4 linked regions of the Homo sapiens genome follow. The protein of the gene in region 3 purifies or fractionates together with the protein of the main gene of each other region. This does not show direct contact. Each region holds a gene or a part of one and is shown on either strand. Other genes may lie near its edges.

Evidence for each region.
Region 1: the proteins of STAM (region 3) and IKBIP purify together in Homo sapiens (affinity purification with mass spectrometry; one large-scale study listed by BioGRID and IntAct). This does not show direct contact.
Region 2: the proteins of STAM (region 3) and CYRIB purify together in Homo sapiens (affinity purification with mass spectrometry; one large-scale study listed by BioGRID and IntAct). This does not show direct contact.
Region 4: the proteins of STAM (region 3) and ZRANB2 fractionate together in Homo sapiens (co-fractionation; one large-scale study listed by BioGRID). This does not show direct contact.

The regions. Positions count from the first base shown.
Region 1 is NC_000012.12:98,638,289-98,641,788, reverse strand, and holds part of IKBIP (inhibitor of nuclear factor kappa-B kinase-interacting protein), read left to right. Parts: intron 1-3,500. UniProt on the Homo sapiens protein: Target of p53/TP53 with pro-apoptotic function.
Region 2 is NC_000008.11:130,013,761-130,017,844, forward strand, and holds the start of CYRIB (CYFIP-related Rac1 interactor B), read right to left. Parts: upstream 2,801-4,084; 5' UTR 2,610-2,800; intron 1-2,609. UniProt on the Homo sapiens protein: Negatively regulates RAC1 signaling and RAC1-driven cytoskeletal remodeling. Regulates chemotaxis, cell migration and epithelial polarization by controlling the polarity, plasticity, duration and extent of protrusions.
Region 3 is NC_000010.11:17,682,151-17,685,650, forward strand, and holds part of STAM (signal transducing adapter molecule 1), read left to right. Parts: intron 1-2,524; coding exon 2,525-2,600; intron 2,601-2,681; coding exon 2,682-2,777; intron 2,778-3,500. UniProt on the Homo sapiens protein: Involved in intracellular signal transduction mediated by cytokines and growth factors. Upon IL-2 and GM-CSL stimulation, it plays a role in signaling leading to DNA synthesis and MYC induction. May also play a role in T-cell development.
Region 4 is NC_000001.11:71,071,036-71,074,535, reverse strand, and holds part of ZRANB2 (zinc finger Ran-binding domain-containing protein 2), read left to right. Parts: intron 1-1,987; coding exon 1,988-2,064; intron 2,065-2,280; coding exon 2,281-2,415; intron 2,416-3,500. UniProt on the Homo sapiens protein: Splice factor required for alternative splicing of TRA2B/SFRS10 transcripts. Binds to ssRNA containing the consensus sequence 5'-AGGUAA-3'. May interfere with constitutive 5'-splice site selection.

The DNA of each region.
Region 1 (3,500 bases), on a different chromosome or scaffold from region 3:
AGGTACTTGGGAGGCTGAGGTGAGAAGATAGCTTGAGTCTGGGAAGTCAAAGCTGCAGTAACCCATGATTATACCACTGTGCTCCAGCCTGAGAGACAGAGCAAGACCCTGTCTCTCTAAAATGTATGTATTATATGTGTTTTTTATGGGCAGATTCTATAATTATTATTTAAATAGTTGCCTCTTAGTTGCTCTTGTGAAATCTTTTGCTGCAAAAATTGAAGCAAATGTACTTTGGTTGCTGTTTATTGCAAAATATTTATTCATAGTAAATTTTGAAATAAAAATATATCCCCATAAGACATTTGTAAACATTTTCCAGATAAAAAGCAAGTATTTGGCATCTTAAAATACTTAAAAGCTCACTAGAATTTTGACAAAGCCATTGAGATCTTTACCACTAAAACACGTAATTCAGCATCTAAAAGTCGGTCTATCAAATCTTTATTAAATGCTTTCCGTACTGACACGGCCCTGGTGGTTAAAATACAAGTGCATATGTGTGCCTGTCTGTGTACTCTTAAATACTGCTTACTCTCACTCTTCATCTGATTAAGTTGGAGGGAAAAAATCTGAACCCTTCCACTGCCCAAGAAGGATTTCAAGGAATCACACTATATCATTGTCTTCAGACCATTTCCTATGTGGAAAGAAAAGAGAAATAATACATAAGAAACTTAAAAGTGTGTTGCTTTAATATCTTCTCTCTGCTAAATAAAGGCCTGATAGGCCAGGTGTGGTGGCTCCCACCTGTAATCCCAGCACTTTGGGAGGCCGAGTTGGGCGGATCTTGAGCTCAGGAGTTCAAGACCAGCCTGGGCAACATGGTAAAACCCTGTCTCTACAAAAAATACAAAAAATTAGCCAGGCATGGTGGCGCATGCCTGTAGTCCCAGCTACTTGGGGGGTTGAGGTTGGAGGATTGCTTGAGCCCCGGAATTTGAGGTTTCAGTGAGCTTTGATTGCACCACAGCACTCAGCCTGGGTGACAAAGTGAGACCCTGCAAAAAAAAAAAGGCCTGATATATCCTATGTCATCTTGACAATAAACACTGGAGATAAGTTGCCCAAACCCATATGGCTTGAGTGTCAGTTTGCATAGCTCTTTTCTAAACTCTTATAGAAATTTTTCAGGTAAGAATTGAGGTGATTCTACTTTCAGAAAGTTAAAAAGTTGTTAAATTACTAAACAAGACACAAAACCTGTCACTCATGCTTATTTAATTACATAGAAATTTAATCAGCTGGAATTTCCATTGTGAAAATTTTGTTTCTTATGGAAACTTCAATAGATTTTTTAATTGCTTTTTTGTTTTGTTTTGTTTTGTTTTGTTTTGTTTTGTTTTGAGAGATGGAGTTTTGCTCTTGTTGCCCAGGCTGGAGTGCAGTGGCGCAATCTCAGCTCACCGCAACCTCCACCTCCACCTCCCAGGTTCAAGCAATTCTCCTGCCTCAGCCTCCCGAGTAGCTGGGATTACAGGTGTGCGCCACCACGCCCAGCTAATTTTGTATTTTTAGTAGAGACAGGGTTTCTCCATTGGTCAAGCTGGTGTCAAACTCCCAACCTCAGGTGATCTGTCCACCTCAGCCTCCCAAAGTGCTAGGATTACAGGCGTGAGCCACCGTGCCTGGCCTAAATTGCCTTTATAAAAGTTTTTTATAGTATCTGTTATAATTATGTACAAAAAGTCAAAAGCTCTTTAAGCAAGTTGTATAACTCTGGTTTTTGTTTTAATTATCCAATATAATTTTCTCTATAAATCATACTGTAAAACCTTGGCTAACTCCATTTCCAGCTTTTTTCTTTGTGTTAGTAGAGTTTTATCTAAAAGACAAGGGTATAATTTAAATGTCCTGCTTCTTAAAAATGGAATATGGTCAAGGTTTTCTTGAAAACTAGGTATTGTGCTAAAACTGAGGCTATAGATGGTATGAAACATAGGGCTAAATGGGTACTGACCCTAATAGTGGCCCTGGAACTTCTTTCCTTGCAGAAGGTCCGTAACAGCTTCCTTTGGTTATTTGCCTCTTTTTCATTATTAAGCTGAAATAGAGCCAGAGGAAATCCTGAATTTGTAAGTCCTCAGTCAGCTGTCTGCCACCATTTAACGTTCCTAAAGGAGCTATTCAGAGGCAACACACACCATTAATTACCACCATGCACTGTAGGAAAATGTAAACCATTCATTATCACAGGACCCTAGATAGATCTGTATGAGGTCTCTATAGACTGCAATGGCTCATGAAGGAGTCAGGAAGATTCTTTTTGTAAGGCCTACGCTAAAAGTAGCCTGGGTCCCTTTCTCCTGTATCTCACTCTTCCACAAGGCCATATGATATGATAGTGAGAAGAGGCCCAAAAACGAGAGTTATTTTTATTTAGTGATTTATAAGTGGTCTAATCCATCTATTCCATCCTTCATTTGCCATAAACACAACCCAGTTTATACTTAGTGTTCAAAGGGGGACAGGCCTGGGGCTTCTATCAAGTGCAAGTGGTCGGGAACCCTGCTTCCCTTATGCAATCATAGGCATGTAGGAAGGATGGAAGAGTAGCTGCACAAAGTAGTCCAAAAGAAAGATAGCTGGTCTTGTTGATGGGCACCTGTAATCCCAGCTAGCTGGGAGGCTGAGGCAGAAGAATCACTTGAACCCAGGAGGCGGAAGTTGCAGTGAGCCGAGATCACACCACTGCACTTCAGCCTGGACAACAGAGTGAGACTCCATCTCCAAAAAGAGAAAAAAAAGGGGCCACAGTACTTAAAGGAAATAGCTGATGTGCTATGGCTCTATTGTTCCAGGAGCTTTTATAAATAGCAATAACTAATGTCTACAATAACTCGGCCAGGCATGGTGGCTCACACTTATAATCCCAGCATTTTAGGAGGCCAAGGCGAGAGGATCGCTTGAGCCCAGGGAGTTTGACCTGCAGTGAACTATGATTGTGTCACTGTAGACCTCTTCCTCTTCAGCTGCCTCAAAAAACGAACAAACAAACAAAATAGCCAGATCTCCTCTCTACAGAATTTTTTTTTTTAATTAGCCAGTGGTGGTAATGTACCTGTGGTCCTAGCTACTTGAGAGGCTGAGGTGGGAGAATCACTTGAGCCCAGGAGTTCAAGGCTGCAGTAAGCTATGATCAGGCTACTGTACTCCAGCCTGGGTAACAGAATGAGACCTTGTCGAAAAACAAACTACAACCCTATGAAGTATTGGCTGGGTGCTCTGGCTCACACCTATAATCCCAACAGTTTGGGAGGCCAAGGCAGGAGGATCACTTGAGCCCAGGAGTTCAAGACAAGACTGGGCAACATAGGAAGACCCCCATCTCTATAAAAAATTAGCCAGGCATTATGGCACACGCCTGTGTTCCCAGCTACTCAGGAGGCTGAGGGGGTAGGATGGATTGGGCCTGGGAGGCTACAGTGAGCCATGATCACACCACTGCACTCCAGCCTGGGAAATAGAGTGAGATCTTGTCTTTAAAAAATAAGATTAAA
Region 2 (4,084 bases), on a different chromosome or scaffold from region 3:
ATTCCACATAGGGAGGAACCACGGGACAACCATTTCAAGGTCAACTGCAGGCCAGTGCGCTGACCTTGAGATGGAAAAAGAATGTACATCCTCAAAGAGCAAAGGGGAACCCATCATTCTTCTGCCCATTCTGTCAAAAGACACGTACTGTTTCCTGCATGGGCCAGGCAGCAGGTCAGGTGCCAGAGGAAGCACAAAGACCACTCAGCGTCTGCAAGAAGAAAAGTGAGCTCTGCAGGCTGAAGACTTAGGCAAGGACCCTCAATCTGCCCCTTCCTGACTGAAGGTCTTGGGCCAAGTCCTGCACTCTCTCTAAGTCTCAGGAAAACGAGAACCCTAGCTCTCCTTTACAGGTAACCCTGGCCACTCCACAGTTCAGTCATTAAAAATGAATCTGGGCCGGGCACAGTGGCTCACACCTGTAATCCCAGCACTTTGGGAGGCTAAGGCAGCGAGGATCCCTTGAGCCCAGGAGTTCGGGCAACATGGAGAGACCCCATCTCTACAAAACATTAAAAAATTAGTTGGGCATGGTGGTGCACACCCGTGGTCCCAGCTACTTGGGAGGCTGAGGTAGGAGGATGGCTTGAGCCTGAGAGGTCAAGGTTGCAGTAAGACATGATCACGCTACTTCTGCACTACTTCAACCTCAGCAATGCGTGAGACCCTGTCAAAACACAAACAAAATGAATCTGCACATGCTCAAACTGCAGCACGCTGCTGCACAGAAGGGTCTGCACTGTCTCTTAAAAATAATAGTAGCACTTACGGGGGTCGGGAGTTGGGGGACCCACATAGCTAAGGATCCTAAGAGAGGCACACAGAAGACTTTGGGAGCTGAGAAAGGAGAAGGGGTGGCTGTCAGAGACAGCAAAATTACTTGAAAATCTCCCAAAGTGAAGGGCAGAAACATATATTGGCCTTTATCTGAAAACCATTTCCAAGTCTCCCTGTGCTGGAACCCACTTCAGCCTCCTGCATCACACACTCTGCCCTTCTCCGTGCTGTGAGCCCAGCAAGGATCTAGAGTGCAAATTCCAATGTGCCTCCTCAGGAAGAAAACTCAGGCCAGCTGACCACTTCTGCATGCCGACCAAGGTAGAAAAGTCACCTCTTCCGGGCTTCCCCCACATTACAGGAACCCCAGGCCTGGGAAACCATCCCAGACGTCAGCCCTGGCTCAGTCTTGGCTGTTGGCCTCAGCCAGTCACCTGGCGGTGGCAATCAAAATGACGCCTTCTTTTTATTTTTCCCCCAGTGCAATCTTCCAAGAATGGGAGAGTCTCAAAGTCAGAGTTTAAGCCCTTTTTCACAAGGGAGTCAGTATTTTCACAAGATGGTCTTCCTCAGAGAGGGGAGGAGTCCATCCAACCCAGATAGCAAAATTGCTCCCTGGAGATCCTGGATGGATGTTACAGGGCAAGGAAGCCAAAATGTGGAAGCACACCGACTCACCTCTCAAAATTCACCACCCACTCGTTCATCTCACAATTATCTATGGGGTGCTTCCCACGTGCTTCAACGCACCCTTTCTAGGTGCTGGGGATGCAGAAATTCAAGGTGACTGGCAATGACACTTTCTATCACTGCGCCCCCTGCAGGCCAGGAAATCTACGCTCGTTTTCTCAAGGCCCCACTCGCAGCAGCCCATTTCACAGACGGGACCCTAAGACTCAGAGAGGGTAAGCGACTTGCCCAAGGTCACACAGCTAGTAAGCGGCAGGGCCAGGAATTAAACATAGCTGCAAAGTGCATGTGACACTCCCCCGCAGCCCCAGCTCTATCCCTCCGCACCCCTCCACCTCTTGCAGCAGGGTGGGTAGCAAAGGCACACTCCAAGTAGCTCCAGCATGGTAAGACCTCGATTCCTCCTTCGTTCCACTCCTGACACAGGACACACGTTTCAAAGGACACACAGGTTTTTCCCAACCCCAGTGTGTGTGTACACAGCCCCAGGAAAGCCCTGCAGGCTGCAAGGGCACCCACCCGCTAACACTGAACTTCCATTTAAAAAGAAAGATAATGAAAAGATAAAAGGCGAAGAGGAAGTGCTCTTTAAACACAGGCGGGTGGCTACCCCAGGAGGAAGTCTTGAGGCCAGTGGAGATTTTGTTCACCCCCTCTAGTTCCTCAAATCCAATGCGACTGGTCTTCCAAGCCCCTGATGGGAGGTGGCCGGGGGCCAGCGCTGCTCCCGGGGTCAGTCCCCGCACCGACACCCGGCTCGCAGGAAGGGTCTGCCAGGGACCAGCCACCCCGACCCGAGCGCCCCCTGCCTCGAGGCGCACAAGGCGCCGGCTCCGCAGCTGGGTGGACCCGGGCGGCGGCCCCGCTGCGCGCTCCCCTCGCGTCCGCCCGCCGCCCCCCGCGCACTCGAGGCGCCTCCCCCGGGACCCCCGCGCCCGCCGGCCCGGACGCCCCCACCACGGCGGCGCCCCCTGTCCACCCGCCGCAGCGCCCGGCCCGGCGGCCCGGATGGTACCTCCGCCTCTCCCCGCACCCATCACGCGCGCGCCCCGCACCCCGCGCCCTCTCCGGGGGCAAATCGGATCCAGGGGCGCGCGCGCGGGCCGGCCGGGCGGCGGCGCCTTCAGAGCCCCGGCACGTACCTGGCGGCCCGGGCGGGCGAGGGGAGCGCGGCGCGGGAGCGCAGGAGCCTCGGAGCCTCCGGTGCCGCCGCCGCCGCCGTTTCCGGGTTGGCGGGGCTCACGTCACCGCCACAGGTTTGCGAGCTGCCCCCGCCGCGGCGGCAGCAGCAGCAGCAGCAGCAGCCCGGGCGAGTGCCAGGCGAGAAATAACTATAAAAGGAAGAGGCGCGGCGAGGAGGAAGAGGAAGCGCTGTTTACCTTCGAGAAGCCGAGCCGCCGGCGCTCGCACAAAAGGAGGACGCTCGCCTCGCGACGCGCCTCCCCCCGCGCCCAGTCCCCGCCGCATCGCGGGGCCCCGGCGTCAGCGCGCGCCGCGCCCCGGGACCGCCCCGCGCCGGCCCCCACCCCAGAACCCCGCGCCCGCCTGGCCCGTGTCCTCCCGAGCCGGGGCGCCACGGGCCCGGGACGGTGGTGACCTTGGGCAAGTCACCGCGGGGCGCGCTGCGATTGGGGGTCATCGCCCTCATTGTGCGAGGAGGAAACCCGGCTCCGAGAGGCGCAAGAGTGACCCCCAAGGTCACTGCCTGTCAGGCAGGGCTTGGGCTCGAACCCCGGTCTCCAGACCTTCAGGCCGGCCAGGTTCCCATCCCTGGGTCGCTTCCCCCTCACCTGGACTTCAGGAATGGTGACAGCCCCTGCCTGGCTCACCTCGCAGCGGGGTCAGTGAGAGGAATGCTGTCCACGCACCCATTCAGCCCTCCCGCAGATACTTACTGGGCCTACTAAGTGCCCGGGCTGTTCTAGGCCCTGGAGCTGCAGCTGCGAACCAAAACAAAATCCCTGCCCGGGAGGGGCAGCGGGGACAGGCCGTAAATATCTGATGGGTCCTATGGTGCTAAGTGCTGTGCCAGAGGAAAAATAAAGCGGGGTGAGGGGACGGTGCGGGCTGTCGGTGCTACCCTAAGCGGTTCTCCAAGGACTTTAAATTTAGTACAGAAATTCCCACATAAAAAGCTCCTCGCCATAATTCCAGTTTCAGGTATTATGGGAGACCTCATCTTTCCCCTGATCTAGAATGGAAAATACTGTGTTTTTCTCCCTGTAACAGGACATGCCTAGGAAACTGATACTCTCCTTCCCTCTGCCTTGCTCCCCTGGCCCAGAAGCCCATCCTATCATTATCTTGACATTCAACCAGAAATTTCTCGGGAAGATAGACAACATTCTCTCAAGTATCTTTCTGCTGTCCTCTAGCAGGGTATCAAAAGGGTTACATCAAAGGCTTCCATTGTCTTTCCACCTCCACCTCCAGCTATAGGGGGGTTGGAGTGTGCTCACATCATACTCAGTGCTGAGTTACCTGATTAGGAGCCAGTTGTTCCATTTCTTTTCTTTTTTCTTTCTTTTTTTTTTTTTTGTCTAAGACAGGATTTTGCTCTGTTTCCCAGGCTAGGTAGCGCAGTGATGCGATAGCTCACTGCAGCCTCAAATTCCTG
Region 3 (3,500 bases):
GTTCCTTCCACCTTATGCAAGTACTAATATGCATTGTCACTATAGATTAAATTTCCTTTTCTAGAATTTCATAAAATGAAATAGTATTGTCAGTACTCCTGTGTCTAGCACTAAATGTGTTTCTAAGATGAATTCAAATTTTTGTATGTATCAATATTCCTGTTTCTTGGGGAAGAGGTATTACATTGTGTTAATATATTACAATTTATCCATTCATCTGTTGATGGGCATTTGGATTGTATCCAGGTTTTGACTCTGAACAGAGCCTCTGTGAACATTCTTATAAAGAGTACTGGGTAGTATGCTTTCATTTTCATGTCCTTAAGGGAAATTATGGTTCTGTGATTTCATTTGTTGTAAGCCTTAGATATTTGTTATTTGATTTCCAAATATTTGGGTATTTTTATGCTATCATTTTGTTATCAATTTGTAGTTTAATTTTGTTATGGTCAAAGAATGTACTTTGTATGACTTTAGTCCTTTTAAATTTATCAGTGTTTGTTTTATAGGACAGAATGTAGTCCATTTTGTTGAATTTTCCATGCACATGAAAAAAAATGTGTATAATGCCATGGGTGGGTGGATTGTTGTGTAATGCCAGTCAGGTCAAGTTTCATGATAGTGTCATTCAGGTATTCCATATCAGTACTTTTTTTTCTTGTGTTATCAAGTCATTGAGGGGGCATGTTGAAGTTTCCAGTAGATTTGTCTGTGTTTCCTTTCGGCTGTATCGATGTTTCCTTTATATATTTTGAAGTTCTATTTTTGTGTTCATGCACATTTAGAATTATGTTTCCTTGGGGGACTTAACCGTTTTATTATTATGTACTGTCTCTCTTTATCCCTGTTAGTATTCCTTGTTATGAAAACTGCTAACGGTAGTGAATAGATAAAAGTGTAGTTGGATTACAATCTTAATCTGCCATTTTTCTAGATGATTGGTTATGTTTCTTCTGTTTTCTCTTTCTGTCTTTTGTGTATCAATCAAATGGTTTTTATGGTTTTATTTTTTTGATTTAAAACTTTGTTTTGAGACAGGGTCTCACTCTGTCTCTCAGGATGGAGTACGGTGGTGCCATCACAGCTCACTGCATCCTCGACCTCTGGGGCTCAAGTGAACCTCCCACCTCAGGCCATTCACTGCGCCCATAGGAGCTGGGACCATTTCTGGCTAATTTTTGTATTATTTTTTGTAGAGATAGGGTTTCACAGTGTTGCCCAGGCTGGTCCCAAACTTCCGGACTCAAGCCATCTGCCCACCTCGGCCTCCCAAAATGCTGGAATTATAGGTGTGAGCTGCTGCACCCAAGCTATTTTATTTTCATTTTTCTCTTAAAAATATTTGTAGTGGTGGCTCTGTGTTAAATTTTTTCATTTTTTTTCTCTCTGTACTTCAGTTTGGGTACTTTCAGCATATTTTCAAATTTACTGATCTTTCATTCTTACCTGATTAATTCCATCCACTTTTTAATTTTACATATTTTTTTGTCTCTAGACTTTTATCTGGGCCCTTTTTAATATATTTCTTCATCATTATGTGGATGATTTCCAGCATGCTTATAATAGCTTATATAAAGTCCTTGACTGCTAATTTCATCATCTTTGTTATTTCTGCATTCTCAGTTGACTGAATTTTCTGCTAGTTGTGTATGGTAGTTTTCTTCTTCATATCATGTCTTCATATCATTTTATTGAATGCTTAGTACTTTGAATTTTATATTTTTGAGCATCAGGTGTTGTATTCCTGTTAAGGAGTATTGGACTTTATTTTTTCAGAAGTGGTTACATTCGTCTGTGGCTTATGTTGTTAGGCAGTATGTAGGTATGATTGAGCTGCATTGCTAGGGTCTAAACTCCCCTGTATATCCACTGAATCCTCTGGATTTTCAATAGATGCTTCACTGTGGCCTCATCTCTGACGACTGTGTGAGCGTTGGATCTCTTTAGCATATCGCCCTCGGTCACTTTTTGACCAGTTTCATGGAGTTTTTCACCTGTGCATGCGTGGGTTTTTCAGAAGGTCTTCACTGATACTTGGAAAGTGCCTCTAGGCAGAAAGTTGAGGCAAACTTCTGGCTTATCTAATTCATTTTCCTTCTTGGATATTATCATTCAGTACTGCCTGTGGCCTCATGTCTTTAAAAAGTTAACCTCAGTGTGGAAAATCTGTTTTTCCAGTTTTCTAATTGTTTACAACGGGAGTGTAAGTCTGGTCTGTTTTTCCACCCTGGCTGGAAGTGGAAGTCATGGCCTACCATTTTATTTTCAAACCTTTTTTTTTTTCCTACCCAGAATTAGCCTGAAATGCCTCATCTACGATTACTAATAAGAGAGCCTGTTAATTTTGTTTGAAAAATTTAAAGGAACTAGTTTACAGTTTTTCAACCGTGTTATTAATAAAAATTAAATTTCCCTACTTTATCATAGTCTCCCTTTTTATCGTAGTCTTTTGTCTATAACAGTTAAGGGGCAGGGGGAAGCTAGATGTATTATTAAGTAATTTTTACTTTTCTCATTTTTTTAGACCTAAGGATTGTCTTCGGTCTATTATGAGAAGAGTGAACCACAAAGATCCTCACGTTGCTATGCAGGCTTTGACTGTGAGTGGTTTCATTTTAATCTGTACCACGAAATTACCTGCCACAATTGAGCCCCTTTAACTTCTGATTTTGTGCTTTTAGCTTCTAGGAGCATGTGTATCAAACTGTGGCAAAATTTTTCATTTAGAAGTATGTTCAAGAGATTTTGCTAGTGAAGTAAGCAACGTATTAAATAAGGTAAGGAGCATTATTTCCAGAAATTAATTAAGGCAGTCTTCTTTCTTCACATATTTTATTGTTTAAATCTTCACAGAGGACTATTCTGTGCTTTTTAAGAAATCCTTTCTAGGCTGTGTCTATCCAGTATATAAATAAATATTATGTTTTGTTGAAGAGACTGCGGATTCATGTAACTTTGAGTTAGTTTTTTCAAGCCATATTAGAGTGTTTTTAACCTGTTCTTTTCCATCATACTTTCATCTGATAAGAAAACAGGTATTTCTATATCTAATTAAATAATATCAGTCTATTTTACATACTGTTTTTGTAGGCACAAGGTATTTTCCTAATGGAAAACCTTTCAGAAACACTGCAAAAAGTCTATGGCACCGTTGAGTTTTTATCTTTATCAATAAGGCTGCTTCCTGGCCATCACAGGATTTTAATACTATACTGCTATTCTTACTGGCTGAACCCACAGCTGGAGTTGCCTCAAAAGTGGTGGCGGGGGAGTTTCCACAAGGGACTGCCCCAAACTGTTCCAGATAGGGCCAGATGAGAGTCCAAAAAAAGAGGCACTAAATGCCAGGGTGATCAGTCTAAAGGATTTATTAGGGGAACTTACACAGGAGGGCTGCAGTTTATAGGAGGGTTTAAGGAATTTGGCTCAGGGTTGGGGCTGGTTTCTGTGTGTTTAGCAACATACTTGATCTTTTAGTGTTTTGGGCCACAACCTGAACA
Region 4 (3,500 bases), on a different chromosome or scaffold from region 3:
GTTTTCCTGTTAGTGCCTTAGTTCTTCCTTTGAAGTACATGTTATATTCATCCCCCTTTCCCGCTTTTTTTCCATTGTCACAATCTTGATCCAAACATTCATTTTAAACCTGTGTTTGATTCTTTCTTGGCCCTTGCTCAGCTTTTTACATTATACTGTGAGACAAATTTGAAAATATATTCATTGTAAGACTTACTAAAATCTACGGAAATTCTTGGTTGCTTTCTAAAGCTTTCCATAGAAATTCAAATTCATTAGATGATTCCAGAATTGTGTTTTCTGTATTCATTCCTTGAAGACATTTATAGGCCACTGTGCAAGGTGCTGGGGATACCTAGGTGAGCAAAAGAGTCTTACAGCACCAAAGATTAATGAAGTCCTCTTTAGGAAAGCTATGCTTAAGCTAAGAAGTGAAAGATGAGTTACCTGAGTAATGGATTAAACACTCTTCTTTCTGTTTGTGGAGAAGTAATTAGGAGAGGTGGCGGCAAGAGTGGAAATAAAACCAATTTATACAGCATTATCTGAAGTGCTTGAAATTAGTAGAATGACGGAAACATACATATCATTCCATTGATTCCACTATCTCAGGTATTCAGTGAAAATGGTATGCTTCAGTTTTTTCACGATAGGGAGCTAGTGTATTTTCCATTTATACAGAGTTAATGAGCTAGATTTATATTGTATGGGTTCATAGAACATACCAATGTCTTTGTTGTCAGCAGACTATTTTGCTGCCTCTTAAAATAATTTTATTTACATACTTTTGAAAAATTAACTACTAGAGTTATAGTTCACTTTCTAATTTTACTATATTTTTGAGCTTTCCATATTTGTCATATTACTTTTCAGTTTTTTCCTATGTAAATTATTTCCAATTTAGATCCCACGTATGTTTAAAAATATTTTTATTAACTTCCAAGTATTTTGAAGTTTTCACTAGTACAAAGTATAATGAAGAAAAGATGCTATATTAGTGTGGGTTTTTTTCAGAAAGTGAAATTTTAAAAATATTTTTTTAAATATGATAGGCAAATTTTAAGTTACAAGTCCTAATTTTTATAAAATATTTTTATTATAAATCTATTTAATATTTTGCTGATGAATGAAGTCCCTAAGTCTGGAAATCACCGGCCTTATTGTACTGATACTGCTCTGGAGTATGTGACCAGTTAGATTGTATTACTCTTGATCAACACATACCTCTTTAATTTTCAATGGGAGACTTTTTCAAAATATGTCAACTCACTTTTCCTAAAACTAGCTCATTTTCTTTAATTCCAGTCTCTCCTTTAAGCTTATGTCAGAGACCTGCCAATTGAATTGTATACATTGGTTGTGACATGAGAGAATAGTGGTTTGCTAATCTCAACTACTTTTTAATAGAATCATTTAATTTCAAAATTTACTGGCTACTTCAGAGAACCTGTGTGACTTTTACCTATGTGTTAAAACCAATTAAACCAGGGCCAAAGGATGGCCTTTATTGTGTTATTGTGTTTGTCTGTGTAATTAGGAATTTTCCAAGCTCTAATAAGGCCTGCTACATTTTAAAGTAGCAAAATTTCAGAATATCAGAAGATTTCAGACTATTTGCAGTTGGTAAACAGTGGAATTTAATGCTTGGTTGTTACTGAGCCCACCCTTCCCAGAAGAATTACGATTAACTGTAGAGGAAAGTCCTTTAAAACTTGGTTATAGCAGAAGTTTGAGATGTTTTCCACCAATACTTTCTATGAATTAAATAAGTCATGTAGGGCAATTTGGAATTGAAAAGAGCTAGAAGTACAGCCATATGACGTTACAACTAAGTTCTCTGTATTTTCTGTGGTGATTTCTAATATGCTTTCTAAAGACTAGTAATTTATTAGATGGGTAGGCAGCCATTGTTGATTAGATGTTTTTTGTTGTCTGGAGATTTGGGCATGATGTGTTTATTATTTAAATCAATTGTCATAGGGTAACAATTTGTGCCCTCTTTTTTAAGGATATGGTGGTGGTTTTAATGAAAGAGAAAATGTTGAATATATAGAAAGAGAAGAATCTGATGGTGAATATGATGAGGTAAGCTATATTTTGGTGTTCAGGTTGAATATAAATTAGAAAAACAGAAAAAATTCTTAAATGCAAAGGAAAACAAACTTTTTTTTAAGTGCAATTTGAGTCTTCAGCAACTGATCATTTTCAGGAAATCATAAATATCTAAAATAATTTTTTAGAAAATGTATTAAGTTTAATGCATTATCAGCTGACAAGCATTTTGAAATTGTTTTTCTCTAGTTTGGACGTAAAAAGAAAAAATACAGAGGGAAAGCAGTTGGTCCTGCATCTATATTAAAGGAAGTTGAAGATAAAGAATCAGAGGGAGAAGAAGAGGATGAGGATGAAGATCTTTCTAAATATAAGTTAGATGAGGTGAACAATTTTCTTGTCCTATTTCCCTTTTGTCTTATTGGAGTTATACCATAACATGAATGCTTTTGACAGCCTCAGACACTTGGTGAAAATATATTCTGTGTTTTCATTTGTTCTCACAAAGGTTTTGGATTTCCACTCTGCCAAGTACTATTTGTACTTGGAACACTACTGTTCTGGAGATACAGTGGTGACCGAAACAGAACCAGTTTTCTCTTACACAGTTCTAGAGGAGGAAATATATAAATAGGTAATTTTGATAGCAGTAACGTTATGAAGACACATGATGTGATAACAGTTTAAAAGCAACTTTGGTTTTGCCGATGGATAATGTCTAAGGAGGTGAAGTTTGAGCTGAAACTTGAATGATAGGAAGGAGCCAGCAATAAGAGCCGAGGTGAGAGCACATTTAGGCAGAGAACAGCAAATACGGGTTCCCTAAATAGGAGATAAGCCAGCAGCCTTCAAAAATACCATACATAGGCCAGTATAGTTAGAGCAGAGGGGAGAATGAGATGAGGGGGACAGCACACATTTCAGGTCTGGTGATACTTGTTCTGTCAGGCCAGAGTGTAAGTTTTATGCCATGTTAAGGGTACCTTAGAGCCTGATCATAAGAGGTCTTGGAATGCAACTAAAGAAATAATAAGCCAGTTTTGAAGTTTTTAAGAAAAAAGTGAGATGTGTTTATCTGTCCTGTGTTTCAGAGTGATGACTGTCAGTATATTGAGATACTAGAGAGGCAGAATGGATCTTCAGATTTGAGGAGACCAGCTAAGAGGTTACTATAATATGCTAGAGAATAAGGAACAGAGTGTCTAAGACTAAAAATGGTGATTTCAAGGACTTTTAAGGAGGTGGACTTGAAAATTCTTGGGTGATGCATAAGTGTGACAGAAAAAGTGTGTATGGCCTCCAGGTTTATGTCTGTGCAATACCTGAGACAAAGTTGTCAAGTCTCTATTTGAGATGAGTTTAGTAGGTGAATTTTAGAATTCAGAATTAATTTGCTGAGATACCTGTGATATATGCATATGGAGGTGCTCAGTACACCTAACTGTTTTATCTTTCCTGGTAGGTAACAC